6 separate regions of the Homo sapiens genome follow, and regions 1, 2, 3, 5 and 6 are each linked to region 4. The links come from fine-mapping of genetic effects on gene expression. A gene starts in region 4. Each other region holds a variant in brackets. All regions are shown on one strand. Distances are from middle to middle. Region 1 overlaps HPCAL1 (hippocalcin like 1). Region 2 overlaps HPCAL1 (hippocalcin like 1). Region 3 overlaps HPCAL1 (hippocalcin like 1). Region 4 holds the start of HPCAL1 (hippocalcin like 1). Region 5 overlaps HPCAL1 (hippocalcin like 1). Region 6 overlaps HPCAL1 (hippocalcin like 1).

Region 1 (4,932 bases), 65 kb before region 4:
GCCACAACAAACCACATGCCACCCCAAACCCGCCCTGCCTGGCCCCAGGGCTCCACCCCTGCTGCTCCAGGCCCTGGTAACACCCACCTGCCCACTGGCCTCCTCTGTTTGCTCCATGCCAGGTCACTGGACCCTGCAGCCTGGAGGTGCCTCCTCTGTTTGCTGGCTCCATGCCGGGTCACTGGACCCACAGCCTGGAGGTGCCAGCTCTGCCTCGGATCCCACAGGTGAAGGGGGCTGCCCCGTCACACGTCCAATTCTGTGACAACTTTAGGTGGGCCCCCTTAGCTTGGAGATGAGGAAACTGAGCCCCACGGGGATGAAGGATAGCCAAAACCTGGTAGAAAAGTTGGAATTTGAGCCCACGTCCTCCCAGAACGCTGTTGCTACCTGGGAGCCCCCAAGACCCCCAGGAGCAGGGCACCACATCTTTGGGATTTTCCAAAAGCTGGTACACCTGTATGGGTGGCTCCAAAACACACCCCTGGCAGACTCCTGTGCCCTGCAAAAGGCCAATGCCAGCAGTGGCCCCATCATCTGGAGTCTGCCCTATGTGCCCTGGCATCATGGGGCAGCCTTGCCTGAGGGCTAGCTCACAGTTGCTGCTCAGTTCCCACATGTTAGACCCCGCTCTGGGGACCAGACAAAGTGGCTGGCCCTCAGCCAGCCCCTCCTCTGCTCCTTGAAGCCTCTTCCTACCTGCATCCAACTAAGTGTTCCCCAGAGAGCCAGCAGGATCTGCACATGAGGGTTTAGGGCTTGTATGGGTTGGAACAAAACAGGTCAGTGTCAAGCCAGCCTGGAAATCCTAACCCCAAAATCTTCCCCCACTGCCAAGTCCCAAGCATGCACCTGCAGGCAGGCATGGGTGAGCACAGGCTGCTTCTCTGTGCCCCCGCAACATACACAGGTGTCCCACCTGCTCCACGACTGACGGGAATTCGATTGGAAGAAGATAAAAGCAGAGGCGATTTGGGGAATGGGAAGGGAGCCACTACTGAAGGGAAGGAGAAATGCAGGAAGGAGAGTGGAAAGAGGGTGCGCAGATTAGCCAGGCATGCCCAATGGGCCCATACAAAGGAATGCGGAGACTCCACTTGGGCAGAAGGCCAAGGCCAAATACAGTATCTATGTGCCTGCCACTCCTGAGGCCTAACCCAGCACATTTCTTGAAGATAAGTGGGCCAGGTAGGCGCCTGCACATTGAGATAAGGGCTAAGTATAGAAGGAGAAAGTTGTTTTTTCCAAAACGTTAAGAAGCACATTTCAAGGAGTAAGGAGGTCTCAAGGACACACTGGGGGCAGCCTAATGAGGCCAGAGCCTTTTCCTTTTTCAAAATTACAAGCTGAACTTCTATGCCTCCTTTGAGCTCAATTTCAGCTTTCCCTAGTGGATCCGAACACGGCATATTCATTATTATTTGATTAATAAGGACCTGGTGACAGTTTCCAATGGACAAAGTTAGCTGGCTTAACCACCACCTCCTCCAAGAAGGCCTCAGGGATCCCCTCTCAGTTCTCTGCTACATTTAGGCTGCCCCTGAGTCCCATCAGAGCCCACCTCCCTCTGCCTGGAGCCCTTGCTGCTGTTGAACTTGCTCCTGCCTGGGACAGGTGCTCACAAATGCTGTCAAACGGGCCTGAGCTATGAGGCAGCCAGGAAGCCAGGGCTCCGGCCCCACCAAGTGTCAACATCCACCTTGATCCAGCCTCCCAGGCCTGCAAGTACTATGGACTCAGAGGCAGACATTCCTGTAGGTCCTCTATGGATTCTGCAGACAGGCAAGGCCAGAAAAAATCCCGAGAGAATTCCTCAAGGGCTGGAGGAAAATCCTAACTAGCCATGATGGCCGTGGAAGCCATCACAACCCCTTACAAGGGATATGTGAGCCCTGAGGTCAACAAACTCTAAGAGGCAAGATGGGGGCACAGAAATCAGGCCACGGGCATCATGTGACTCACATGGCAGGACTCAGTGGCCCTCTGCTCCCCACATCACAGAGCTGGAGGGGAATCCTTGTGTTGCTGCAGCCACCCCGGCACAGGGTTTTCAGCCTGAGAGGGCTCCTTGATGTGATGGGCAGGTTCCAGTGCGAAGGTGGCCAGCCTGAGGCGACCGTGAGTCCTCAGGCTTCCCCCAGTCACAGGGCAACGCCATCGGCTGCCGCCAGCTTGGGAGATGTGCTTTTGGGAAAATCAAGTCACCACAGCATTCTCCTGCGGTCCCTCCCCACTCGGTTTAGATGTTGGTGAAGAAAACGAAGCCAGTTACGGCAATGACTTCCAACAGATACAATCAAATAATCTATTCCTGGATTCCGCAAGTACTGAAATGTCGGTAATTCAATTCCTGAAATGCCATTTTGGAGCTGCCGGAGCAGGCTGCGGAGAAAGCTCAGTAAACACACACATCAGTTCAAGCCCAAACACACACCCACTGACCTTGAGCCCCGGTGCCCGGCGCTGTGCTGAGAGGCCAGCTCCCCAAGGGCGGCCACCACCAGACAGGGCCTGGGGAATGGGCGGTCCAGGAGGGAGGCAACAGCAACAGCAAATAAATATTGACAACGCTGCAGGAGGCGTGCTGCTGGGAAAATGTGGACGAACTGCACTGAGCTCGAGGAAAGAGTACTCAGTGTGTCTGGGGGAGTCAGAAGGCTCCCAAAGCAGGCTTGACTTACTCTGTGATTAAAAGCCAGGCCGGAGCTGGGAGCTGGGGGAACAGAGAGGTGGGAACCACCCTGCCCTCAAGGAGCTCTGGCCGAGTGAATGCAGACACACATATGCTGACACGCACACACACCTACACACACATATGCACACACACACACAAACCTACACACACTGCACACACACCCACACG[T/C]GCATATGTGCACACACATGCACACCTACACACACGTATGCACACACATGCACAAACCTACACACAATGCACACACACACATGCATATGTGTACACACGCACACCCCTACACACACGTATGCACACACATGCACAAACCTACACACAATGCACACACACACCTACACATGCACGTGTGCACACATGCACACACCTATACATGTGTATGCGCATATGCACACACAGGCACACACCTACACATGTGTATGGACACACACATGGAAAGCTTTGGAACTGAGGTCACCATATGCACACACATCTACAATGCACATGTACACACATACACACCTACACAGGTATATACACACATGCACACACCTATATACACATATGCACACACCTACACACGCATATGGGCACACACGCACATACACACATGCAAGCACACAGGCACACAGTCCCAGGGCAGGCAGGGTAAGGGTCACATGAGGAATCCTGAACACCCCACACTGTGTGGGGATCCAGGGCCGGCGAGGGTGGCCGCAGCAGCAGAGGCTGCTCATGTCCGAAGCTCTGTCACCCTCCACTCCAGCACAGGGCTCACACTGACATCAGTTCTAAGGCTTTCCATGGGAGTGTGGGTCATGGGACTGTGATATGGGACAAGGGCTTTTCTGGCACTTTCGACAAATTTTTGCAAGGAAGCATAAAATTTACATCTAAACCAACCCGTGGGATGACAGTGATTGTTGTTGCTATTATGATTTTGCTTTACATATTATTATACTTTCTGAAATGTATGAATTGGAGATTAAAATTTTAGTTGAGCCCAGGAGTTTAAGACCAGTCTGGGTAACATGGCAACATCCCATCTCTACAAAAAATTAGCCATGCGTGGTGGCGCACACCTGTAGTCCCAGCTATTCAGGATGCTGAGGTGGGAGGATCACTTGAGCCTGGGAGTTTGAGGTTGCAGTGAGCTATGATCGAGCTCGCACTCTAGCCTGGGTGACAGAGCAAGACTCTGTCTCAAAACAACAACAACAACGACAGCAACAAAATCCCCCCTTAAAACAACACTACCATCCGCCCGTCATCTGTATATTAAATATCTAACTGTAAAAAGTCTCAGCCTATTTTGAGAGATGAAGTTACCCTCAAGTCCCAAGCAGATGACAATAAACTGGAAAAGCAATGGGAAATCTCCAGACAGAACACCCAGGTCCTCCACCAGATGCTCCTCCCGGTCTCTCTTGGGCCATCTGGAGGGTGTCAGATCAGCTGGGCGAGCAAGGGCAGGGCCAGCCTCACTGTGGGATCTCAGGCAGCCTCCTCGCCCAGCCAACGTCTTTGTCCCAACACATCAAGGAACCTGGCGTCCCTCACCCCAGGAAAATCCTGGGCCTACACAGCCTCCTCAAACAAGGTCACTGTATGAGACACACTCAGAGCTGCCCCCGGCCCCAGCATCCTTGGATCTAGCAGTGAAATAGTTGGTGCCTTCACCGTGCTGTGGTGGGAGGCCCAGAGGTCAAGGTGCAGAAAGCCCGTACCACAGAGCTCCTAGTGGAGAAGACGGGAGTGGAAGCACACAATGCAGGAAGCCCGGGGCTGGGGAGCCGGGGCAGGTGCCAGAGAAGGTCTCCAGACCAAGCTTGAGCTGCAGGGCGGGAGTCGGATCATGGCCAGCACTGTGAGCTTGGTATGGGTGAGTCTCCTGATGCCAGACAGATGTGCTCTTGGAACATCTGTCTGTGAACCTCATCTGGGAGAACCAGATCTTTATTTAAAGTAAATTAAGGGGCCAGGCGTGGTGGCTCACGCCTGTAATCTCAGCACTTTGGGAGGCCAAGGCAGGTGGATCCCCTGAGGTCAGGAGTTCGAGACCAGCATGGCCAACATGGTGAAACCCCGTCTCTACCAAAAATACAAAAATTAGCTGGGTGTGGTGGCGGGTGCCTGTAGTCCCAGATACTCAGGAGGCTGAGGCACAAGAATCGCTTGAACCCGGGAGGCAGAGGTTGCAGTGAGACGAGATCGCACCACTGCACTCCAGCCTGGGCGACAGAGCGAGAACTGTCTCAAAAAAA
Region 2 (4,932 bases), 91 kb before region 4:
GTGTTTCCGCGTCCTGACTGGGCCACTAGACCATGCCCCTGGAAGAGAAGAGCGACAGGTCACGCAGGCTGTGACGACCCGGCCCGGAGCCCATGCCCCTCCCTCTGGTTGCTTCTGTGGTGCCTGCTGGGGGATCACAGTTTTTGCAAGTGCCATGCTACATACAGAAAGCCCTGGCTCCCGGCCTCCGGCCAGCCACCATGGACAGGGGCACATGCCCAAGGCCGCTGCACCCCAGCAGGCGAGAAGCCCAGGACAACGTTGATAGAAGCCCCAAGGTAAGATGCTGGCCACCCTTCGAGTGAGGTTGCTGGTTACTACAAAACTGGCATGGAAACTAAGTGTGGCCGGGACCTCTGTGGTCCACAAACTCAGGTTCAAATCCCAACAGCATTGTCACCTGGGGCCATCACAGACGCACAGCCTCCGTCCTCACCCAGCACTCTACACTCTGCACCCAGGGCTGTTACGAGGGTTCAGTGGAATCAGGCACACCCAGGCCTGCCACCCACGACTGTGCCCTGCTCCCTTCAGGGTCTCTCCAGCCTCCACGGTTTCTTGACTGGCATACCTGGGTTGGCCCCTCATCACCCGACCTCCTCCTTGAGGCCCACATTGCCCCCAGCATGCCTCCTGGGCCCAGCACAGGGCACACACTAGGTGCTCAGGAAGAGGTCAGGACGCATCACCTGACATTCAGCCCGCAGCTCAGCTCAGAAAACCATCCAGAGACTGAGAAGGAAAATTTGCATTGCGGGTGTCTAGGTGCTCGGCCACTCCCACCCTCAACCCTCACTGCCAGCTCTGGCACAAGCGTTCCAAGCACCTTTCACGTGGCGTGAACTCGGGACGGGCCCGCCTCCCTCTTCTCTGCCTGCTCCCCGGGCATGGATTGGTGACTCCTCCTCCGTGAACCTGCAGCCTCTGGTACATATGTGTATTAACAGTGTTGAGGCCGACAGCTCTATACAACCAGGCTCCTTGCTAAAGGCTGTCTATGCATTTGTACTCATTATCCAACGTAATCCACACAGCAGCCCTGGGAGGCAGGCACAATCATCATCCCCATTTGACAGACGGGGAAAAATGGAGGCTTACAGGAGCTAATTACCTGCAAGATCATGTGTCTTCCAAGGGGCCGAGCCAGGATGGAATCCTGACAGTCACTTCACCTGACGGCCCGTTTCTCTTCCGCATCTACCGCACACTCCCTAATTACTTTCTCCCAACGCAAGGTTCTCTCTCTCATAGCAACGATCCCGCTTTACAAGCACCCACTAGACGAAGTGGCTTGTTCACCCTAGAACACCCAGCCTCAGCACAGTGCGGCGTGCCAGCGGGGCTCCCCTCGCTCCTGCACAATGGGGGTGCTGCACCTCTCCCCTCCTTCCACCCACCCACCAACCCACCCCCCTGACTGTGAGCGCCACAAGGTCAGGAAATCGTCCGTTTCACGTCTATGCGTCCAGAGCCTGGACACAGCAGGTGCTCAACAAATAATGTTTGACAAATGAATGCCCCCGAGATGCATCACGTGTGATTGGAAATAGGGTGTATCTTGCTCAGAGTTAAATTTCTACTGTTTCCCAAATATAGAATTTTGTAGGCCAATTATGGAATGTAAACTCACTGCTAGAATTCAAGACCTGACAAAGTCATACATCTTCCCACCAGAAATTCTCACTGCAAGGTCCCTATGCTTTTAAGATAGCAGTGTGTGTGTGTGTGTGTGTGTGTGTGTGTGTGTGTGTGTGTGTGTTTTAAAGATAGATTTTAGGCTGGACACCATTGTTCACGCCTGTAATCCCAGCACTCTGGGAAGCTGAGGCAGGTGGATTGCTTGACTCCAGGAGTTCGAGACCACCCTGGGCAACATGATGAAATGCCATCTCTACTAAAAATACAAAAAATTAGCCATGCGTGGTGGTGCGTGCCTGTAGTCCCAGCTACCTGGGAGGCTGAGGTGGGAAGATCACCTGGGCCCAGAAGGCTGAGGTTGCAGTGAGCCGAGATCACACCACTGCACTCCAGCCTGGGTGACAGTGAAATGTTGTCTCAAAAAAATAAAATAAAATAAAAGATTTTATTTTTTAGGTCTTCCCAACAAAATTGAGCAGAAAGTTCCCACACACCCCTTACACCACTCCCGGCCACAGCCTTCCCCACGATCCACATCCCCTGCCAGAGCAGGCCATTTGTTACAACTGAGGGACCTGCACTGACCATCATCACCCCCCAGGTCCGCAGCTCACGTTAGGGTTCCCTCTTGGCGTGGGCCACTCCGTGGGCTTTGACAAACGTGTACCGATGCGCACCCACCATTACAGCATCACATAGCGCGGGCTCGCTGCCCTAAAGCCCCTCTGTGCTCTCTGCCTTGCCCCATATTTTCTCACGGCGTTTTCAAATCGATGATCTCAGCCAATTTATCTCACAGCTCCGTGCGCACTGCTTTGACACTCCGAGAAATCAAGACCTGGACAGGGTCAAGGGCTCTCCACGAGGAGAAACCCAGCAATGGAACCAGCAGCAGAATGTACCAGGTCCTCATTTCATCATCCCCTTCCTACCGGCCTGGCAGAGAGCTCATTCTCAACTGTTTATGGAGAAGGAAAGAGACTCCGGGACACCAGCTCAGGTGACACTCGGCTAAATGGGGTGTGGGGCGCCCAAAACACAAATCCCCAAACCCATGCTCTGTTCTTTTCAGCTGCTCTGGTTAGTTACAAGGTTTTTTTTT[TG/G]TTTGTTTGTTTTTCAGGAGACAGGATCTCGCTCTGTCACCCAGGCTGGAGCGCAGTGGCACAATCAAAGCTCACTGCAGCCTCAACCTCCCAGGCTCAAGCAATCCTCCAGCCTCAGCCTCCCAAGTAACTGGGACTACAGGTGCACCCCAATCTTTTTTTTTTTTTTTTTCATTTTTAGTAGAGATGAGATCTCACTGCATTGCCCAGGCTGGTCTCAAATTCCTGGGCTCAAGCCATCTGCCTGCCTTGGCCTCCCTCAGTACTGGGATTACAGGTGTGAGCCACCACGCCCGGGCCTAAAGGGGATTTTTAAAAGGCCATGGAATGCAGTGAATAAGCATCCTCCTGGGGTAGGAGGGGCCTCTGCATGCCCCCAGCTGGAGCAGGTGAGCACAAGCCTGCTGGCACGCTCAGCAAGCACACCCTATCTCCACATTGAGGTCCCTCGCTATCTGGTTGCAAAGGCCCCACTGTCTCCAGCTTCCTGGGGGCAGCCCTGCCTGGCCAGCACTCTCAGTGACCAGCTCCACAGAGGCATCTTTCCTCTGTCCCACCACAGCCAGGCCAGCTGAAGGGGAAAATGCTGGGTGGTGGGAGGGTGGAGAGGAAGTGCTGGTTCCAGGTTGGCCTGTGCCTTGGGCACATCCTGTGACCTCTGCCATTTCCAGTTTCCCCATCTGTGACAAAGTGGATGAGCTGGACTCCGCAGAGGAGGCCCAGCCAGCTCTGACACCAGGCTTCCTAGCAGGAAGGGGGTCTGCTGTTCCGGAGACCTTGAAGGAATTGGCGCTCAGGCTGCTTGGGAACACTCCATTAACTCGAATTGCAAATTTCCTCCTGGCTCTATCTCTAAGCCACAGGGGCTCCCTGGCCACCAGCTTCCCAGTGACAGATAGAGATTACAGTCATTGCTCGAGACAGAATCAAGTAGCAGAAGTCATTATGCAGAAATAATTATGTTGAGTTATGTCTGGTTGCTCCCGATTTCTGTCTGGCGATTGTCTTACAAATTGCCATGCCTCTTCCTCTAGAAAAGCAAAATGCAGAGGCCTGGGTGATTCATACAGACCTGCTGGGCACAGATCTACTGCTCCAAAGTCCTGCCAGCTGGGGCGTCACACCTTAGGGTAGGGTGCTCTGTGCTGCCCTTTGGCTGAGCGCTTGGGAGAGGAGGTTAGAAGATGAAAGCCCCAGAAGGGGACATCCGAACTCCCCAACTGGGAGTCTGAGCCCTTCACACACACGCTTTTCCTGGGGCCCTTCCGACCCCACCTCCCCCAGCCCTTCGTTCATGTCAGGCCTTAGGCCCCTCTCCGAGTCTCTGGAGAATGGCAGAGGGAGGTGGCAAGGCCAGGGGCTGCATGGCTGGACTGTCTGGAATCAAAGCCCAGCTGGACTGTTTCCTATTTCCTAACAGTGTGACCTTGACCTGTTATCTCACCTCTCCCTGCTTCCACTCCCGCATTTGTAAAATGGAGATGACAATAGTACTACCTAGCTCATCAAGTTTTTGTAAAGATTAAATGAGCTAATGCACAACAAATGCTTGGTACATAGAAAGAACTCAATAAATGTCAACTATGACTGAAAGAGCAGGGGAGGCCTGCAAAATCTAAGCCAAGTAGAAAGACACAAACTACCAGAACTGTCTCAAGAAAGAGACAATTTGAAAGACTTATAACACGTGAAGAGATTGAATTAGTAATCAAAACACTATCCACAAAGAAAAGCCCTGGCCAAATAGCTTCACTACTGAATTCTACAAATATTTAAGGAATACCAATTCTTGGCCAGGTGTGGTGGCTCGCACCTGTAATCCCAGCCCTAAGGGAGGCCAAGGTGGGAGGATCGCTTGAGCCCAGCACTGCGAGACCAGCCTGGGCAACATAGTGAGACCTCATCGCTACTAAATAAATAAACAAGCTAGGCATGGTGGTGCATGGGGGTAGTCCCAGCTACTCAGGAGGCTGAGGCAGAAGGATCACTTGAGCCCAGGAGTTCAAGGCTGCAGTGAGCTATGGTCATGCCACTGCACTCCCGCCCGAGGGATAGATCGAGACCACGTCTTAAAAAACAACAACAGCCTGGCATAGTGGCTCATGCCTGTAATCCCAGCAATTTGGGAGGCCAAGGTGGGTGGATCACGAGGTCAGGAGTTCAAGACCAGCCTGGACAAGATGGTGAAATC
Region 3 (4,932 bases), 110 kb before region 4:
GACCCCTCTGTCATTCATTAAGCAAAGGAGCCAACCTTATTGGTGCTTGGCTGTCTAGTAAGACGACCGAGCAAAAGCAAGCCTTTCTGCAGAGACAGAAAGCCACCACTCACGTTTCCCAGCAGAACAGCCACCTTGCTCCAGTAATTAGGCAAACCCAGCCTTCATTTCTCAGGAAGTCTTTCATCTCCAAGGAGGATGGTGGGGTAAGAAATGGGAGGCCCAGGGGAGGGCAGTCTATTTGAGAGCAGAACCATCTCCTGCTCGGCTTAAAAAGATTCATATTCAAGCAAGGCTCGGATCAAACTAGTAACAGCTGTCTGAGGGCATCAGAGATGACGTTGTAATTCACGGTGATGGAAACATGGGAGAGGGAGTTAATGAGTCACTTACAGCCACCTCTGTGGTTCTCAGTTACCCTGCTATTGTTCTTAATCTGCTGAATTGTAAAAAAAAAAAAAAAAAAAAAAAAAGAAGAAGAAGAAAAAGAGGAACAAGGAAAGAAATGTAAACATGCAGCTGGGGAGCCCTGTGAGAAATAGTTAACCCAGAGTCGGTATTGCCTGTAAATTAAAGCCTGTTTAGTGGCACAGTTCTAGCAGCTGCTCAGTGAGGCTCCTGGGAACCGAGGGCTTGATTGTCCTGTTAATCCCACCTCAGTGCCGGCTGACGGCATTGGTTGGCATCTCATCCCATTGCTCCAAAATGCTTTCATCAGTCAGATCCCCGAAGCTTGCCAGGCCAACCAGACTCTGAGATGCTTTGAGGGAAGGCGACCAGAGAGGTGGGAAACACCAAATGCTTATGAGAGACCCAGGCTGGCCGGGGCGCCGTGGCTCACACCTGTCATCCCAGCACTTCAGGAGGCCAAGGCAGTGGATTGTCTGAGCTCAGGAGTTCAAGACCAGCCTGAGCAACATGGTGAAACCGTCCCTACTAAAAATATAAAAAATTAGCTGGGTGCGGTGGCACGCACCTGGTAGTCCCAGCTACTCGGGAGGTTGAGACGGGAGAATTGCTTGAACCCGGAGGGTGGAGGTTGCAGTGAGCTGAGGTGGTGCCACTGCACTCCAGCCTGGGCAACAGAGCGAGACTCTGTCTCAAAAAAAAAAAAAAAAAAAAAAAAAAAAAAGACTGAGGCTCAGGAAGAGGCTGGAGAGGCGTTTGTTGTGAATTTGAACTTCAAGGAATCAGAGGGCTCAGGCCATTTGAGATGAGAGCTTGTTCTTCCTGGGGTGGAACAGGAAGGTGGAAGGCAGAAGGGGCCGGTGGAAGACAAACAGGTTTGTGCTCTTTCTTATCCAGCACCCAACCCAGTTCTTTCTCCCGGTGACCGCTGGACCCACACGGCCCCTGCAGCTAAGCCCCTCTCCTAGGGCTGATTGCATTTTTCAAAACAACTCGGGCCTGTGTCCTTCTTTCCTCCAAATAAGCAAGTGACAGTCAAGCTGCCTGCAGCCTTAGCTTCCCGGTAGTTCTCCAAGGAGGGGCCCGTTTTGCCCCTGGGTGATTGCGGGGAGGCTGTGCCGGCTGCCAGGACCCAGGTGCAGGGAGGAGCCGATGCATCTGGGACCATCCAGGCTGAAGTGTGGCTGGGCCGACGCTAGAGGGAGCTGTTGAACAGGCTCCCAGGGCCTGAGCTGAGACCCCGCCCCTCTCAGGTGCCTCCGTGTCTCCACCTATAAGCTAGGGCTGCTTTGTCCACTATGGTCACAACCAGCCACACGTGGCTACTGAGCACATAAACCGTCGCCAGTCTGAACTCATATATGTGCCCTTAGTGTAAAATACACGCCGGATTTTGACGACTTCATATGAAAAAAAACAACATAAAATATCTCATTAATACTTTCTCTTTCTTGATTACATGTGAAATGGTAAATGATACCATTTGGGATCTAACGGTTTAAATCAAACAAGTTTTAAATTTCATCTTTTTTACTTTTCAATGCGGCTATAGAAAAAGTTACAATCACATAGGTATGTGTCTCCCACTTTATTTCCCGTGGGCAGTGCTGGGTA[G/A]AAGTAGCATTCAGTGGGTGATACCAGGGACCCTGGATCTGGGGCTACCAAACAGGGACTCTTCAAGCTCATTAGCACCCTGTGGTATCCTTTATTTATTCACTCCTTAGTGCCCTTGAGTGAAAGATCATGGCGTTTGTATTTCATAATTACCTGTGAGTCCCACACGGTTCTCTTTTCAGCAGGGAGGGCTAGCCTGAGAACGCTGCCAGAGGCCAGCTGCAGTGAGGACCCCAGGTCTGACCCCAGCTAAGGAATGAGGCTGGTGGGGAGGGGCTGCAGAAGGAAAAGGTTCCTCCTTCTCTTTGGAGCTGGAACAGCCAACCCTGCTGAGTCAGATCCGGGGAAAGAGGAGGTTAGTAACACCTCTAGAGTGACAGTTCCAGGGCGTGCCTGCACCTAAACCCAACCCACTGACCTAGAGCTCATTTCTGGAGGCCTTCCTGAAAGCTGTTGCATCACGGCATTTTACCCACTGGAGGGGCTCCAGGCCAATGACCTGTTGTTGAGAAATCCAACCGAAACCTTCTTGACTTCTTACCCATCCCCAGCCTCTTAAACTCCCCACAACTCCCCAAAACCTTACAAGAAAAACATAACATATGAGAAGAGAGAGAGAGAGAGACCCAGCAGGGCACAGAAATCCCCTTCCTCTACCAATCTCTCCTTCTTTTCCACCCTCTCAAGGCTGAAATGCCCTAAATGAAGCTGGTGAGAAGGAAGAGGTGGAGAAAGGAAAAGGGAAATCCCCAAGAGCTGTACTTTCTCTTGCAGAAGCTGCTACTGCGACAGGAAGAGGAATGTGTGGGTGGCTGTCCCTGCACACCTTGTGCCTCTGCAGATATGAGTTCACCCGTGTGGCACGCTCGCCTCAGCCACCCTGCCAACCCCTACTCATCCACCAAAGCCCAATGCAAAGGTCACTCCTCAGGCTTGCCTTTCCCAGCCCCTACAACTGCTCTTCCCTTTGAATTCTAACAGCGTTTTTCTAGTATGAACTCAGCTTTGAACGCGTCACTTCTTTGTCTTTTTCCTTCATTAGACTGGGAGCTCCTGGGGGAAGGAGAATCCTTCATTTGTCCCAGTCAGAGAAGCTGCTCAGCGTGTTCCAGCCTCAGGGCCTTCGCACCTGCAGTTCCCTCCACCTGTCTGCTCTTCCTTCCCCTCAGTGTCTGCAAGGCTCACTCCCTCCAAGTTCATGTTCTTGCTCAACAGTCGTGGGGAAACCTCCTCCAAGGACCCACCTCAAAGAGCATCCACCCTCACCCTCTGGTCCCTCACCCTGACCCCTTTCTCAGCATTTCCTGCCACCTGGCACTATATTTACAAAATCTCTTGACTGTCTGCCTCCTTTTGTTCACCACTGTACCCCCACAGGGCCCAAAACAGGGCCTGGCACACAATTCAGTCAATAAATATGTTTGAATGAATGGTTGTGTATTCCAAGCGCCTAGCACAGTGCCTGAGCAAATGAACAAAGCAATGAGTGAGTGGTTCTTTTTCTAGGATCCCTCTTATTCTAACATTCTGTGACTCTTCCAGTTTTAGGAATTGCTGGAGGAAGGTCAGGGGTTAGGATGGTCAAGTGCTCTCCTGCTCAGATTTGAAGCTGCTCCAAGAAGGCACATTCAGACTCGGTATTCTGGAAATCTCTGTTTTCTGGCATGGAAACAGCTGCAGCAGAGTAGAGTTTTGGGGCCATGCCAGACTTGGGGGTGTCCATTTATCAAACTGGTGCCAATCTCCTTCCCAGGTGAACACATCCCAGCTATATGGTCCTCAGCCAGTGGGGTGGGGGACAGGATGGGGGACTTCCTGCTACTCTCCAGTGAGATCATTCCCTGGACCAGTGCGGCGTCATCATAGAGCGAACATCACTCCAGCTTGAGTCTTTGGAGAGGAGCTCTTTGAGCTGCCTCCCAAGCAGAGAAAGGGAGGTGAGTGAAACGGACATACATGAGCCTCTGGGGAGAGAACAGGGAGACAGGAAAAGGGAAACGCCCAAGAGAATGCTCCCCTTCCGTCCGGAACCCTAACCCAGCAGGAAAAGGAAGCTCAAAGGCAGGACCAAAATGAGACCATAGACTTTCTGAAAGCAACCCCCGACCCATGTACGTCTGTCCCTGTGACAGTTCCGTGTTTCTACAGAGGTGAAGGGTGCCGGATGCCAGGCGGGGAGCAGAGCCACGCAGCACCCGTGCCAGGGCCAGGCTAGAGCGAGCCCGGTGGAAATCTGGGTGTGGAGTCCTGGCCACAGAGCCTGGGACTTCCTCTGCCCCCACCCAGGATCTCGCTTTGAAGGCGAAGTTGGGGTTTTCAGTGACAGACCCCAGAAACATCAGGCTGAAGTGAGAGTGGAGTCTCTGGACTGGTTCCTTCACCCACACCTCAGTGGTTCCCGAGTCCTGTTCCATGCTGGGTGTAGTCACACGTGGATGGACAAGACACAGACCCTTCCTGGGGCTCCTTGAAGTGACCCCCCACACACGCCCATGAAACAGCAGTGATGGGCATGAAGAGACTTACGTGGGCTCAGGAGCTCGGGCGCAGAGCACAGAGGTCAGCTGGGATGGGACAGAGCTGAGGGCTGAGCCAGGGCTTAAAGGTTCCAGGAGTTCTCCAGCTGGGACAAAGGGAACAGTGTGTGCCAGGGCATGGGGACAGCGAGCACTGGGTCCTGTGGCACTCAAGCCCTGCACGACGAGGAATCCCCACATGCCACAAAAGACTCTTCCAGTTTCAGTAATGCTGGAAGGAATGACTAAAGGAATTAGCGCGGAGCATGACTGTAGGAGAACGCATGTTGATGACAGCAAGGAGGGGTGAAGGGGAGAAACAGTAGAGGCTCAGTGTGCCCACCTCCCCACTACCCGGTAATGCTCCATAGAACACCAAGAATAATTCTATTAC
Region 4 (4,932 bases):
TCTAGGAGGGCTTGTTGGAAATAAATGGGTCATTGGCTGGAGTTTGGGCAAATCTCTGTTCTTCTGGGGTTTTGACTTGTTCTGGTTTCTCCACAGATCAAAGGACCTTCCATTTATTGGATTCCAAAGACAAAGTCTCCCAAATTGTTATCACACATTGACATTTCTGTTCCACCTTAAAAACAGCATGAAAGTGGGACGCAGAGGGAGCAGGCAAGGCTAGAATGTGCCACCGTGGCACCACATCCCACCGCAAGGGAGAGGCAGGGCCCCCGGGCCTTCCCTTTGCCACATTATCCAATAAAACCTCAAGAGCTCAGTAATTACAGGCACTTTCAAAAGTGAAACAGAAATAGATCTAAGGCCAAAACACTGGCTTGCTTGAGACAAAGGGCTGGCTTTAACTAGAAAAAAACAAAAACAAAACAAAACACAAACCTGGGTTTGGGTCTGTCTTCTGAGCTGAGAAAGCCAGACTGATTTTTTTTTTAATATTATTATGGAACCTGATTATGAGGAAAGAGTAGGATTCACACCAAAAGCCCTTTTTTCTTGTAGGACATAAAATCATTTGATGAAACAGAAAACAGGGTGCATTCTAAGTGTGCCCCTGTCACTAAGTCAGGATGAAAAATGAGAAAATGAGTTCATCGCATCCCCCTGGCCTGCCATGGCTAGGATTGCAGGGCTTCAGTCTCGGCCGAGGGAAACCAAAGGAACCGGACCAGGTTTCTATCCCTGGCTCCTAAAAGCCCGCAAAGCAGCCCGCCTCTCTGGGAACACCATCACGTAGCCCCTGACAGTTGGGAAGCGCATCCATACCAAAAGGCCGCCCATGCTGTCCCCTCCGCAGCCCAACCCCATGCCGGCGCTCCATTTTGAGAGCCTCCTGCACTGGTGAGATCTTGGCTCCCTTGGTTAAAGGCGATTTTTTTCCCCCAGAGAAAGACACCAAGGCGATGAAGGGAAAGAATATCCTTCGCTCTGGCCGAGAGCCACCCGACCCCTAGAGCTGGCCTTGCTGCGTCCGAGCCAGCGCCGAGGCGCCAGAACTCTCCAGAGAGTGAGTCGTGGTAAGAGCTGGGTGCTCGTTCACTGCGGTTCAATTTTACGACTAGTAGGTTTCAAAAGTAAATGTTTTAAATTAAGGTGTGGGACTAGGAGGAGGTGTCCCATGTGGCACCCCCGGCATGAGGCTGGCTGCAAGGGAGCAGGGATGGCAGGGGCTGGGGCTGGGGGTTGTCTAATGCCGAGGCCAGCAGCTGGACTCGGCGTCCCTGGCAAACATCCTCCTCTGGTGGAATTGGGGTCAGCCAGGAGGAAAGGGGTGGCCTTTGGCGGCCGGGACACCCCGGGAGCCCGAGATCTGCATGTGCGGGAAGCGCCAATTTTACGCCGTGACTCTCGGACTCCACGAGCTGAGCTGCATCCTCCCGGACTAGGAACTTGTTGAACCAAAGGGTTCTCAACTCCGCAGTCGCTGCCTCCCGGCCAGGAGAGGGACCCCCACGCTTGCGCGGGAGCCTGGGGGCTGGGGCAGGGCCGGCGCCCAGCGCGGCGCTCTCGGGCACTCGCGGAGGCGGCGCCGCCCGGGAGGTGCTGCAGGAGGCAGCGCAGCTGGCAGCTAAACTTTCTCGAATCTCAGTGCTTCGCGGTTAAGTTAGGGCCAGGGAGAGGCACAAAACACGCCCGGGGAAAATGTAAGGCCCCACCCACGATAAAGGGGAAAAAAAAAGGATTTTAAACAGGAGACGCTAATCCAATTAACACAGTACCTACTGTGTGCGGGGCTTTGGACCAAGAGCTGTCTTCAGTGCGTTCTCATTTCACCTGTCACCACAGCCCCCAAGGGAGGAGCTGTCCTCATTTTAAAGAGAAGCAAACCGCGACCGGGGAAGGTGGCGCGTCTGGCCCAGGTCGCAGTGCGGGTCGCGGGGAGGCCAGGGCTCTCCTCGTCGCCCCATGGCCCTGGGAGGAACGAGCGGATCGCCTCCGCGTGGGCCCCCACCCTTGGCAGAAGCTCACAGGCGACCCACGTGGGCCGCACGGACCTGTTCCCTGAGGGCTGCCCAGCCTGCCCGCGAGGCCCGCCCTTGCCCGTCGGGTCCCAGCTGTCCTCGAGGCTCCTAAGCTACGCACTGCGCCGACCAGCAGGGACAGGGGGCTCTGGGCGTGGGGCTGGACCACCCACACCCACCCCGCCACCCCGCTCTGCGCACAGCTGCTCACACACGACACCCGCCAGGCACCGCTCCCCACCAGCAACTGCGCCCCGACACACAATTCCACAAACGCAGTCCAAAATGTGCACACCTAAGGCACACATGGATGCCCACGAGTACACGCCATTCGAAAGACACACCACCGTCCGCAGTCACCCACAACTCCACCGCGCAGAGAAACGCGGGCACTCCCGGACACACACACGCGCGCACAACACACACGCAAAGAGCCGGATCGCAGCGCTCGCCGGTGCACACGCCGGGTGCACACGCCCGGGGCACACTTCAGCAGCCAGCAGACCGCAGCCCGCCCCTTCCCTACCTGCTCCGGCGCAGGACGCGGTCCGCCGGCTTCCCGAGCCCAAGTTCGGCGCCGGCGGCGGCTGCAGCGGGCCCGGGCCGCTGCCCGGGACAAGCGCGCCGAGGCCGGGAGGAGTGACTAGCAGCGCGGGCCTCCGTGCGCCCGCAGCTGCTGCGCCGGCCCTGCGCTCATCGCCGCCCAGAAAGACAAAAGGAAGCCGGCAGCCAGGGAGGGAGCAAGGTGGAGGCGCCCGTCAGTCCGCCCGTCCGCTGCCCGCCGCCGCCGCGGCCCGCCTGCCAGCTCCGGGAAGGAAGGGACGCGAAGGCGGGACCTGGAGGCGGGACCCGGAGGCGGGGGCCGGGGCGGGGCGCGCGGCCAGAGGCGGGCGCTCAAGTTTCCTACGGCCCCGCCCCCTCCGGGCCCCGCCCCCTCCACGCCCCCTGCCGGACCCTCAGCGCCCGGCTCGGCCCTCGCAGCCCCTGCACCTCGCTGCTCCTCGGCCCTCGCGGCCCAAACCTGGCCCTGCCGGGTCCCAGCCCCCAGTGGCTTTCGGGACAGGGGCGGAGCCGGGCACCGGTTCTGTTCCCCTAACCCTTGGCCTCTGGCCTGCTGGTATAGAAGAGGCCGAGAGGCGGCGCCCGGGAGGGGCCAGCCCTGCGCCCGCGCCCCCCGCCCCCACGCCGCAGGAAGTGGCCCGGGCGGCCTAGGAAGGGGAAGAGCCGAGTTGCCCCAGCCCCGCACCCCCAGCCCCAGCCCCGCGTGCAGCTCGCACCCCTTCCCACGCCTGTTCGGGGGAGAGCCCCGGGCCTGGAGTGGGAAGCCTGGCTCCAGCTCTGGTTACCTGCAGTGACTCCCCAGGCCGTTTAGGCGAGTCCATTGGGCCGCCTCTGCCTCGGTTTCCCCACCTAACCACGGAAGGTGCTCCTCCCTTCCAGGCATCTGTGGTCTTCGAGCTCCACGCGGGAGAGGCGCCGGTCTGGCACCTCCTGCCCAGGGTCGGCGCCTCCTGGCTCTCGGGGAGGGGGGCATCCTCCATCCCCTGCACCTGCCTCGAGAGGAACCAGGGACAGAGCACCCCCACCCCCACCAGGAGCTCCGGAAAAACGGCTTCAGAAGAGCAAATATACACACACACCCACCTCCCGCCCCAAACATCCCCGAAGAAAGGTAACCACAGAAACAGCCAGAAATGTGGAGCTGGGCGATCGTATGAGGCTGAGACAAAACTGTCTTTCTAGCGTCTCTAGGGGAGAGCTTGAATCCCTCCTTCCACTCCTCCTCCACGGAAAACAGAGTGAACTCCTGCTACAGAGGCCGCCAGAGCAACATGCAAGACCAGCTTTGAGGGGAGCGGGCACAGGGCCTTGCAGGGAAGGTGGGCCGAGCCCAGACCCCTCATTCTTACTTGGCTCTGAAGGCGGAAAGGCAAAGCTAGACCTCGAGGAAGTTCCCCTCCCTGTGGGCCCTACAGTGAAGATTACATGAAGGCATGTGGGCGGTGGACCAGAGTGCACCGACTGATGAAGGCGGCCCGGTACCCGCGGGTGCCATGCCTCCTTCTTAGCCAAGGCCACTCTAGCTCCCCGTGAAGTATCCAGGTAGAAGGCTGGTGGGGTTACAGGTGAGAAGCCGTCGGTGGGGTCCAGGAGCCAGGCCTGGGGAAGCACACGTCACTTCCACCCACATCCATGGGCCAGAAGTAGTCGCACAGTCCCACCAGGATGCAAGGGGCTCTGGCAGCTGTGGTCTTCATGAGTGTTTCGGAAGTAAACAAAGCCGGTTTGATGAACACGTAGAAACATCCCTGCCACAGAAACTGAGCAGATTTCTCCCAAGCACACACAGGGCAAAGGGGCAAAGTCTGTCCACAGACTCACAGGAAGGGAGGTGCATGGCAGACACAGGCAGGAGGTGGGGTTGGGGTGGAAAAGTTCAGGGAGGGCTCAAAAGCAGACCAAGGCCTGTTTCTGAAACCCAGCCCACTCACTGGTTCCTCCACACTTGGCCCATGCTGTTCCTCTCCCATGTGACTTTTCCATCTTCCCCCTCCAACCTGTCACCCATCCATCCTTCAAAACTTAGGTCAGTTAGCTCTCACCTAGCCCTCAGCAGCTTAGCCCGCAGATGCTTCCTCTGTTTCTGAACTTCTAGAGAAACACACTTAACCGCAGACCTCTTATTCCAGGAGTGTATCTCTCTCAGATGAGATACAAGTTGGTCCCTTCCCTTGCGTCCCTCCTGTTCCTTCAAGAGGAGGACTGTCTACCCACCCCGAAGCTTCATGGAGAGAGAGCACACCGTCGTTATTCAATATGTAGTTTTGAATTTAACTAGAGCAAAGAAGAAAGCAAATTCAGGTAAGATGTTGTATAATTTCCTGGGGCTAATGTAACAAGCACCTCCAACTGG
Region 5 (4,932 bases), 97 kb before region 4:
ATGTTTAATATCTCTGGGAAGCAATAAAAACAATAAATCATTATTAATAAAATGGCCTCAGCCCGGCTGAAACGCTAGGCACAGAATGGTGATGTTCCAGCCGCCCTCGGTGGCCCCAGCAGCTACAGTCTGGAGTTAACTGTTGGCAAGTGACTTATCCATGATCACCCAGGCCTCTGACTCATAGAGAGTGTGTTTATAATCAGGAGTGGGGCAGCTCATAAAAGCCACTCTTTGCCATCTTTAGTCTTTAAATCACAGCACCAGAGGCCACAGATTCTGCAGGGAGAGTTGTGGCAACGCACCCACCCATACACACAAAGTGTAATCAACACGCAGTCACGGAACACCCCTTACATGCAGGCCACAATGCTAAGTGCTGGGAAGACACCGAAGTGTAAAACGCCCTCAGAGCGCTTCCAGTCTGGTCGGGAAAGCAAGACAGGAACTCCTTCTTTCCTTCTCCTACCAAGGTTCAGTTCCTGGCCGGGTGCGGTGACTCATGCCTGCAATCCCAGCACTTTGGGAGGCCGAGGCGGGCAGATTACCTGAGGTCAGGAGTTCAAGACCAGCCTGGCCAAGATGGTGAAACCCCGTCTCTACTCAAAATACAAAAATTAGCCGGGCGTGGTGGTGCGCGCCTGTAATCCCAGCTACTCAGGAGGCTGAGGCAGAGAATCGCTTGAACCCAGGAGGCGGAGCTTGCAGTGAGCTGAGATCACACCACTGCACTCCAGCCTGGGAGACACAGCGAGACTGTCTCAAAAAACAAAAACAACAACAACAGCAAAAGCTTCAGTTCCTGCTCTGAGCCTGGCGCCGGGCTTGGGTGCTGGATGGCAGAGGGAGACAGCATTCCAACATGGACCAGCAGCCTCAAGCCTCCAGCTTCCCAGCTGGGCCCCAGTTCTCTCCTGACCCTTTTCCCAAGGACAGAGAGCTGGGTTCCATTTACCCAGGGTGTGGCTAGGAATAATCCCATAACCAATTATTAGCACAGCGCCTAGAACACAGGAAGCACACAGTAATTGTTTGACGAGAGGCAGGAAGGAAGTCAAGGAGGGAGAGAGAAGGTCCGGGTGATCTAGGCGCTCCTTACAGACAACTTCCAAATCCTCTGCAGATCCGGCCTTGGAATAGTGGATCTTCGGCCACCGCGGCACTGTCTGTGCACCCTCCGAGAGCCCCATCAGACACATTCTAGCCCAGATAGTCTCTAGCCTCAGCAAAAGAGCCAGTTTCCCGGAGACCCTCTGGGGGCCTAGGAACACCCAAAAGAACAGATATTTGCTAAACATCGTCTATGATCCCAGTGATTACTTCTAAGCTAAAAATTTGCACATGGGGTCTGAGAAGTCCAAGAATATTCTAGGGGGTAACTGAGAGAAAACGTGTAATCTGGGCTGTCCCAGAAATACCAGGCCCTGTGCCTGGTGTGGTGCTGGATGCCTGGGGAAGGGGAGCAAAGATCACTGTGGACTCCACCTAGAGAGGCCGGTGACATGGGTGGGGAGGAGCCTGGCTGGCTCGGACCTGGCCTGGAGACCCGGGGCCAGCAGGCAGCAAGGTCAGGGGAGTGTCCTTGTGCAGCCTCGGCTGTGGCTGCCTGTGTGGCTGAGCAGACTAAGGGGCAGGTCAGCCGCCCTTCCTTCCACCTCTGCCTGGCATCTCCCAACCAGATGGGGAGGCTAGGCCGGTCTTGCTCATGTGGGATCTGGATGCAGCCCTTCACACAGAGCCCGACATGGAGCAGATGCTCCGGAGATGCTGACGGCTAGGATTCCCCCGCCAGGCACCTGGCGGTCCTGCAGAAGGGCCAGGACAATGTCCCCAGCCCTCCACCAATTCCAGGGCAGATGAGAATGCCAAGTTGTGCCTGCCC[A/G]CAATGTGTGTATGTGTGTGCGTGTGTGTATGTGTGCATGTGGGTGTGTACGTGTGTGCAGGCACGTGTCTGCCCACAATGCTTGTCAGACAGGATCTGCCCTCCGTGGCTGAGGGCTGGAGGGGACGACCACAGGAAGTGATACTGCCAAGTCATCCCAAGTCACCCTAAATATAACCCTCAATGTACAACACAGGAGGATTGTCCCTTCCCCGCTGCCCTGCCTCATGACCAGCGTCTGCCTAGGAGGGCACTTCCAGAAAGGCCGCTCAGATGGCTCTCTGAGATGCCCGCCTGGGATCCACGGCCTGGCCAGCACTAGAGGGGAGGCAAGCCTGGGGTCCTGCTCTTCCGGCCCCAAATCTCCATGGCCCTGTTCATCTAACTTCTTCCAGAAGAATTGTTGGCTACACAAATCACTATGAGCAACAATGATCTCTTAAGCCTGGGAGGAGGCATCCTTATTTAAGGGACACAGAGGGCTGCCGTATGGTGGGGGTCTGGCTGTGCCGAGATGCTGCTCGCACCTGTCTTCCTCAGCGGTCGGGGTTGCCAGCGTCCTGCCCCTCAGGTGTGACCCACTCCGACCTGGCTGAGCCGCCTGCTCGCCCCCTCCTTGCCACGGGTGCACGTCTGCCACAGGCCCTTTGCACCAGCTGCTCCTTAGCTAGAAGCACGCCCGTCCCTGACCTCCTGCAGGCCTTTGGTCAGGTCTCATCTCAGGAAGGCCTTCCCCAAGCACTCTATCCAAAACCGACACTCATTCTTTATCCCCTTTCCAGCTTGATCCTTTCTCTCATTTCTGTTTTGTTGAGTTCACTGTCTGTCTCCCCTTGAGTGGAGCTCAAGGTCCTTGGGGCCAGGTTTACTCTGGTCTGTTCTCCATCAGAAGCCCAGAGCCTGGAAGCTTGTCTGACACAGGGTACGTGCTCCATGAACCCACCTCAAGGGAAGGAACGCATGAGTGTCTGGGGACGTGGAGAGGGAGGCTGGTAGGGGAGGCTGGGACTCGAGCCTTAGTATGCAGGTGCTGCTTCTCCACTGCCCGGGGAGCGGCCTGCTGTACATGACCAAGGGCCAGGGGCAGAGAGAAGCGGAAGGCCCTTCCAGTGCCCATCACCTGACCCACAACATCCACGGCCAATGGTGTGAATGTGCTGGAAAGTGCCTTCTGATCCCAGAGTCCCTCAACTCGTGGTGGTGGTGGTGGCGGTGGCGGTGGCGGTGGTGGTGGCGGTGGCGGTAGTGGTGGCGGTGATGGTGGCGGTGGCAGTGGCGGTGGTGGCGGCGGTGGTGGTGATGGTGATGGTGGCGGTGATGGTGGTGATGATGGTGATGGTGGTGGTGGTGGTGATGGTGATGGTGGTGGTGGTGGTGATGGTGGTGGTGGTGGTGGTGGTGGTGATGGTGGTGGTGGTGGTGGTGGTGGTGATGATGGTAGTGGTGGTGATGGTGGTGGTGGTGGTGGTGGTGGTGATGGTGGTGGTGGTGGTGGTGGTGGTGATGGTGGTGGTGGTGGTGATGGTGGTGGTGGTGGTGATGGTGGTGGTGGTGGTGGTGATGGTGGTGGTGGTGGTGGTGGTGGTGGTGGTGCAGTGATATTATTTGCTGTGCGTGCACTGAAATGCCCCAGGGGTCTGGGGATGGGAATGGACACCTCGGACCACCTCCTCTACCCTCTTCTGATCTCTTCGCCTGCTCCAGCTTCTTGACACGGGTATCAGCCTCAGCACGACCTGCCGGGCCAGGCGCCTCCCCTGTGCACCCGTGCTGACAGTGGCCTCGGGCCAGGACATTTGTATGCAGGTGACATCCAGGTAACACGGACCCAGATGTTCCCCCACTCTCTAGCTCCAGTAAGGCTGGTGGATGGAGAATGAAGGAGTGGAAGTGGCCCCTTCACATGCAGTTGTGTCTATTTTCTGCTGAGAAAAATACTTTTTTCTCAGCTAACCACACGCTAACTGGCACCCTGAGGCTGAGGCCCCAGCCTGGATGTCTCCTCCCAACCCAGCAGCTACTGTGGCAAGGAGAAAGCGGAAGGAGAAATCGCCTCCCTCAGGAAGAGGAAGGCAGGAAAACCCACCCCACCCACGGGATGCAGATCTAAGGGCGGGGCAGGGGACGGGCAGAGGGTGGGGAGCTCACTTTGCCCTGGAAACACCACGTGCGTGCGTTGGTGCCCAGCGGGAAAGCAGCCACGCCCGGGGTCTGCCCTGGGCCCTGGGCTGACCGGCTGCGGGACTCACATCTACCAGGGCCACAGATGAAACCTGCCACTGGTATCTGCCCTCCACCCCTCACACAGCCCAGAACCCCATCATGAACACTGAAATTAAGACAGTGATGCTTTAACAGGTTTTGGGTCCAAATTTTAGCCTGGCTGAGTATTCAAAGGTGGTTCCTTCTGAGTGGGAAGATGAAAATTATAAAGAGCATCTCCCGTGTCTAGGGCCAAGAAAATTCCAGACTTTTGGAAAGCGACTTTGTATGAGGACTTGGAGGACTTTAATCCTTATACAGGACCCTGCCAAACTCACCAGATGCAAGTCGGTGATGAGGGCTCTCAGGGGCTGGGCATGGCCAGATGGGGCTCTGTCCCCAAATGTCCCTCCCCCAGGTGTCCCCCCGGGAGCCTATGACAGCTGACCCTTGCTACATCCATGGCCCCAACTGATGCTCACAGTATGCAGGAGCAGGTGGGGCAGGGTGGTGAGTGACAAGAGTCACCATAATAGTCATGAGACCATGAGAGGGAGGAGGGAGAGAGAGGAGGAGCTGTGGGGCAGCCAGGTCCTGCTGGTCCAGATACCACAGGGACACTTCACTCCAGGTCTGATCTCGCATTGACCCTGAAGAGGGTGTTTTTATCAACCTTAATATGCACGAGATTGGAAGGGGCTGTGAAGAGGCACAGCCAGAATTACACACTCTCCAGCATCGCATACCTGGTTCCTTGCTTACAAACAAAACCAAACCCTCAACGCTGGAAGGGCAGCCCCACAGCATGGCTGGCAGGCTCTCCAGACCCGAGGGCAGCCCCGGGACAT
Region 6 (4,932 bases), 30 kb before region 4:
GGGAGTGGGGAGCGGATGGAGATCTGCTTCCAAGCTCACTCACATGGCTGTTGGCAGGCCTTGGTCCCTTGTCACCTAGGCCTGCCTCTCCACAGGACTGCCTTGAGACATGGCATCTGGCTCCCTCCAGGGCTGGCAATCCAAGAGGGCAACAGAGAACACCCAAGCTGGCAGCTGCAGTCTTTTTATAACCTGATGTCAGAAGTGATGTCCCATTCCTCCTGCTGTGTTCTATTTGTTAGAATCAAGTCAGTTAAGTCCAGCCAACACCCGAGGGAAGGGATTACACAAGGGTGTGAAGACCAGGATGTGGGGACCAGTGGCGGCATCTTAGAGGCTTCCTTCCACAGCACTCAAGGAGGATCAATATTCATATGGCACTCTTTATACTAATGAAAAAATGGAAGTGACCTAACTGTATATGACTAGAGAAACGATGGCTTATTTAGACAATGGGGGCTGGCACAGTGGCTCACGCCTGTAATCCCAGCAATTTGGGAGGCCAAGGCAGGTGGCTCACTTGCGCTCAGGAGTTCAAGACCAGGCTGGGCAACTTGGCAAAACCCTGACTCTATAAAAAATACAAAAATTAGCCAGGCATGTACCTGTAGTCCTAGCTACTTGGGAGGCTGAGGTGGGAAGATTGCTTGAGCCTGGGAGGTGGAAGTTGCAATGAGCCGAGATCGTGCCACTGCACTCCAGCCTGGGTAACAGAGCGAGACCCTGCCTCAAAAAAAAGTCAATGGAATTGTATACAGCAGTTAACAAAAAGGAGAAAAAAGAAGACCATGAACCACATCTATGTATCAACATGGATACAGCTTAAAAATTGTTGACAAAGTAGTCAAGAACAAATTACAAAGTGATATATATATATACCATTTATGAGTATTTCTTTCTGTTTTCTTTTCTTTTTTTTTAAAGACAAGGTCTCACTCCACTCCATCATCCAGGCTGGAGTACAGTGGTGTGACCACAGCTCACTATCACCCCAAACTCCTGGGCTCAGGAGAGCCTCCCACCTCAGCCTCCTGAAGAGCTGGGACTACAGGTACATGATGCTGCACCCACCTAACTGTTGTTGGTTTTTTTGTTTGTTTAAAAAACAAAACAAAACAAAACAGGGTCTTGCTATGTTGCCCAGGCTGGTCTTGAATTCCAGGCCTCAAGCCTCCTCCTGCCTCAGCCTCCCGAAGAGCTGGGATTACAGGCGTGAGCCACCATGCCTGGGCCACCATTTATGAGTATTTCTAACACATAAAAACTAATGTTTTGTTTAAGGTTACGCACATGTGTAGCAAGAGCGTAAAACGCGCACAAATATGATCCCTACTTCCCTCCGCAGAGTGGCTATTGGTCACTGGGGAAAGAAAAGAGTAGAGAAGAGGAGAGATGGGCTTGGGCTGGCTCTGTAATGCTCTACTGGAATTTATAGTACAATCAATCAAAATAAAACAAAAATATGGTCTTATTTTTGCTAAAACATACCCACATTTCTGTTACACATATCTACAAAGCATCTGTAAAATCTGGACACAGATGACATTATTTTATTCCTTTACAGGTTGATGTTCTTGATGGCATTAGGTCTCTTCACCTATGTTTCTAGACTTTATGCACACTTCTGGAGAGGCAGAAATGAGTCTGGAGGGGTATAGCTCAGAATGCTAATAAAAGTTATATGGAGGTGGGCAGGGTAGTTATGGGGGAATTTTTTTCTCTGTTTTTCTGTGTTTTCCAGTCTTACCAAAGAGACATAGAATATTTGGGTAAAGAAATAAAAACTTTCTTCAAAAATCAAATCAAACTCAAAGCCAAAATGGCCACAGCTGAACACCAAAGCACACCAGCTCTGAGAGCACAGAGCAATTCCAGGAAGGTTTGCCTGGGAACACAGCTGCCCACGTGGGAAGAGAAGGTGCTGGGCCACAGGAGGCTGGCTTAGGCTGGCTTGGGCTACGGTGATACATCTGCCAGCAGGATCCCGAGAGGTGCCAAGAGGCTGCAGCCCACCCATCCCTGGAGGGAATGGCCTCCTGACTTTGCTGAAAGGAGGAAGTTGTGAGGCCAGGCTGGCTCCTTGACCTCCAACAGACAGCAGGGGTCAGATGGAGAAACGTTACACCAGTTCCCCAAGACAGACACAAACATCCACAATTCACTGTGACCACCTGATTCACGCTCCTTGGTAATTTCCCGAGTCTCTCCTGTGAAAATGCATTAGTTTTATCGTAGGGAAATTAGTAAACTTTAAAAAGAGAAGAATCTTTGTCTAGCATTTACAATGCCCAAGAGGCTGATTAAAGACCCAGTGCAGAGATCGTCAGCAGGTCAGGCCCCTGGTGGCAGCGTCCAGGCGTCATGGGGCTCAGGCAGGGCCCACTGTGCCCCACACATCCAGTGAGCCCTGAAATCTCCCACAGAGCCCCAACAAAGACCCACCCTGCCCCTCCCCCCTGCACCCCTCACCCCAAGATCAAACTTCACTCAGGCTCCTCTGAGCCCTCTTTCTGCCTCCTGTCTTCAGCCTGCCTGGCCCAGTCTCAGCAAGAATCCTGCTTAGTCAGTTTAGTGAGCCTCTCACGCCCTTCACATCTGACCACCCTTGAGATCCAATCAGTCCTCATCCCCACCTTTGACATCAAAGTCCCCCCCTGCCTTTGGCAAGAATCCCCCTACCTGTGATGTCTTCTCGCAGCTACTTTCCACTCACCCAGCCCACTCCACTTCCCAGCTCTGTCCCTTCCTTGCTGTATTAGGAGTTGGGCTGATCTCTCCCCTGCTGATAAGGTCAACCCCGACTGCATTTTCCTCGAATAAAGCTGTCCTCACTGTTTTAACAAGCGTCTGACTCTTATTTTCCTCCAAGCCTGCAGCCCAGCTAGGGAGTACAGGGGCCCGCTTCACCCCTTCCCTGCACGGCTACCCCCCACCTCCCACCCTGCCTTGCCCACCCTAGGCAGAAGCTGTTCTAGATAAGGGGCAGGGGGCACCGAGGGGCTTCCTGAGAACCGCAGAGGGGCGGGCCAGGGGCTAGAGAGGAAGGAGGAGGGTTCTAGAGAAAATGGAAACCTGTGGGCAGATGGAACTTTGAAAAAAGGAGAACATCATGATGCAACTCAAATGAAGCTTAAATGGAAGGAAATGGTAAATGCTCAGATCAGATGGAGAAGGAGGGGGAAGAAGCTGACGGGA[T/A]CATGGGTGGGTGGAGAGAGCAGTCAGGCTCTGGGCATGACCTCAGCCAGGTCGAGGTACTTCCCCTCTGAAGCCACTGTCCTGTGATCGTCCCCAAAAGCAGGAAGGGAGAAGCAAAGTGAGTACACCTGACAACGGGTGACAAGGAGCGCTCCCTCTGAAGCAACAAGTGACACAGGGCTCATAAATGACAATGGGTGACAAGGAGTGCTCCCTGTGAAGCAACAACAGGTGACACGGGGCTCATAAATGACAATAGGTGACAAGGAGTGCTCCCTGTGAAGCAACAACAGGTGACACGGGGCTCATAAATGACAACAGGTGATGAGGAGAGCTCCCTCTGAATCAACAGGTGACACAGGGCTGTCTCGTAAATGACAACGGGTGACAAGAAGGGCACCCTCACCACACACAGGCAGCAAGCCCAGCTGGGGCCACCACAGGATTGGCCAATGTCACCAAGCAGTTGATGGCGGCTTGTTTATGTCCCCATCCACAAAAGACTAGAAACACCATGCCAGACGGGGAGAAAGATGCATGCGGGGGAAGAGACAGATGCCTCTGACAGCCGGGCGTGCAGTGGGGGGCAGACAGCCTCACACCCATCCCTGGACCCCGGGCACAGTGCAGCTGGGCCCAAAGCACACACTGACTTCAGCGCAGCTCCACCACCAGCCAGCGCTTGGCCGTGGAAAAGCTCCTGGGAGGGTGTTCCTGCCCCGGAAAACCTCGCTGCTGCATCCGTTCCACCAGCAAGGTTTCCTGAGTGTCTCCTGGGTTCAGAAACGGTGTCCTGTGGGACAAGGGACATGAAGAAAGGAGCCAGCCCCGTGCCTGCAGAACTCCGAGCTCCCCGGGGAGACAGGAGGAAACGCAGGAGGAGGGGTGACGATGCGTAGGTGGCGAGGTGAGGAAGGAGAGGGCGCTCGGGTGACAGGAAGGGCGCCTGTGGGCTCAGGAGGCAGGAGAGGCGGACGTGCTGAGTAACAGGCAGCCAGCACCCTGTGGCTGGGCCGGGGGCACCTGGGGGCAGGCAGGAGAGTCCAGGCTGTCCCCAGAGCCCGCCCCGCCCTCTGCAGGCTCTTGGCAAGGCCCGCATGCAGTAAGAGGGTGCGGTCACTTGCAAGGCTTAGAGAAACCGCTCCTGCAGCCGGGAGAGCAGATGGGAGGCCACGAGATGGAGCGAGAGGCGGGATGAGGAAGAAGCCAAGATGGCAAGACACAGAGAACTGGAGAGGCCGGGGCTGCAAAGGAGGCACAAGCAACAGGCTTCCCGCTAAGGCTCTCCGAATGCAGGGGTGGGCTTGCTGCACCCCCAGGCTGCACCCAGAAGCTCTGACTCAACCAGCACGGTGTGGGCCTGGGAACCTGCATTCTCACAAAGATGATCGGGGTCCGCAGTCGGAGACACACTGACAGAGAGCCCCTGCCGTGGGCAGGAAGTGAGTTAACGTGGACTGAGTGTGTCCCCCACAAAACCCCTATGTGGAAGCCCCAATCCTTACTACCTCCAGATGTGACTGTATTTGGACACAGGGACTTTGAAGAGGTCATGAAGGTAAAATGAGGTCACTGCGTGGCTCCTGATCTAGGGCTGGTGTCCTCACAAGGAGACTGGGACTCAGACACACTCGGAGGGATGGCCGTGTGAGAACAGAGGGAGAAAGGGCTACACGGAGCCGAGGAGAGAGGCCTCGGGTGACACCAACCCTGCCGCCACCCTGTCTCAGACATCAG

What was found.
Region 1: its variant is fine-mapped to the expression of HPCAL1 in whole blood (INTERVAL, PIP 0.92).
Region 2: its variant is fine-mapped to the expression of HPCAL1 in blood mononuclear cells (TOPMed, PIP 0.93).
Region 3: its variant is fine-mapped to the expression of HPCAL1 in whole blood (TOPMed, PIP above 0.99).
Region 5: its variant is fine-mapped to the expression of HPCAL1 in monocytes (TOPMed, PIP 0.98).
Region 6: its variant is fine-mapped to the expression of HPCAL1 in whole blood (TOPMed, PIP above 0.99).

What each region holds. Positions count from the first base shown.
Region 1 is chr2:10,366,248-10,371,179 of GRCh38, reverse strand. All of the region lies in intron 1 of HPCAL1 (hippocalcin like 1), which reads right to left. Among named protein-coding and RNA genes, the nearest start is that of HPCAL1, 66 kb to the right of the region's middle. RefSeq lists a silencer at 1,563-1,857 and an enhancer at 2,495-3,302. The variant T/C (reference allele first, on the strand shown) is at 2,864.
Region 2 is chr2:10,391,941-10,396,872 of GRCh38, reverse strand. HPCAL1 (hippocalcin like 1) reads right to left here. Exons shown (of 5, transcript NM_002149.4): 2 at 1-38. Among named protein-coding and RNA genes, the nearest start is that of SNORA80B, 52 kb to the left of the region's middle. The variant TG/G (reference allele first, on the strand shown) is at 2,741.
Region 3 is chr2:10,405,978-10,410,909 of GRCh38, reverse strand. The region is part of intron 2 of HPCAL1 (hippocalcin like 1); the gene reads right to left. It overlaps LOC124905972 (a long non-coding RNA gene), which reads left to right. Exons shown (of 3, transcript XR_007086211.1): 2 at 2,797-2,941; 3 at 3,065-3,452. Among named protein-coding and RNA genes, the nearest start is that of SNORA80B, 38 kb to the left of the region's middle. RefSeq lists a silencer at 1,592-1,721 and enhancers at 1,581-2,193, 2,194-2,805, 2,053-3,252. The variant G/A (reference allele first, on the strand shown) is at 2,023.
Region 4 is chr2:10,300,790-10,305,721 of GRCh38, reverse strand. HPCAL1 (hippocalcin like 1) reads right to left here and starts at 2,818. Exons shown (of 5, transcript NM_002149.4): 1 at 2,545-2,818. LOC101929691 (a long non-coding RNA gene) reads left to right here and starts at 3,005. Exons shown (of 4, transcript XR_922791.3): 1 at 3,005-4,144; 2 at 4,709-4,880. RefSeq lists silencers at 1,924-2,103, 2,422-2,619, 2,504-3,283 and an enhancer at 2,184-2,243.
Region 5 is chr2:10,397,752-10,402,683 of GRCh38, reverse strand. All of the region lies in intron 2 of HPCAL1 (hippocalcin like 1), which reads right to left. Among named protein-coding and RNA genes, the nearest start is that of SNORA80B, 47 kb to the left of the region's middle. The variant A/G (reference allele first, on the strand shown) is at 1,883.
Region 6 is chr2:10,330,502-10,335,433 of GRCh38, reverse strand. All of the region lies in intron 1 of HPCAL1 (hippocalcin like 1), which reads right to left. Among named protein-coding and RNA genes, the nearest start is that of HPCAL1, 30 kb to the right of the region's middle. RefSeq lists enhancers at 3,234-3,821, 3,651-3,850, 4,381-4,480 and a silencer at 4,221-4,270. The variant T/A (reference allele first, on the strand shown) is at 3,196.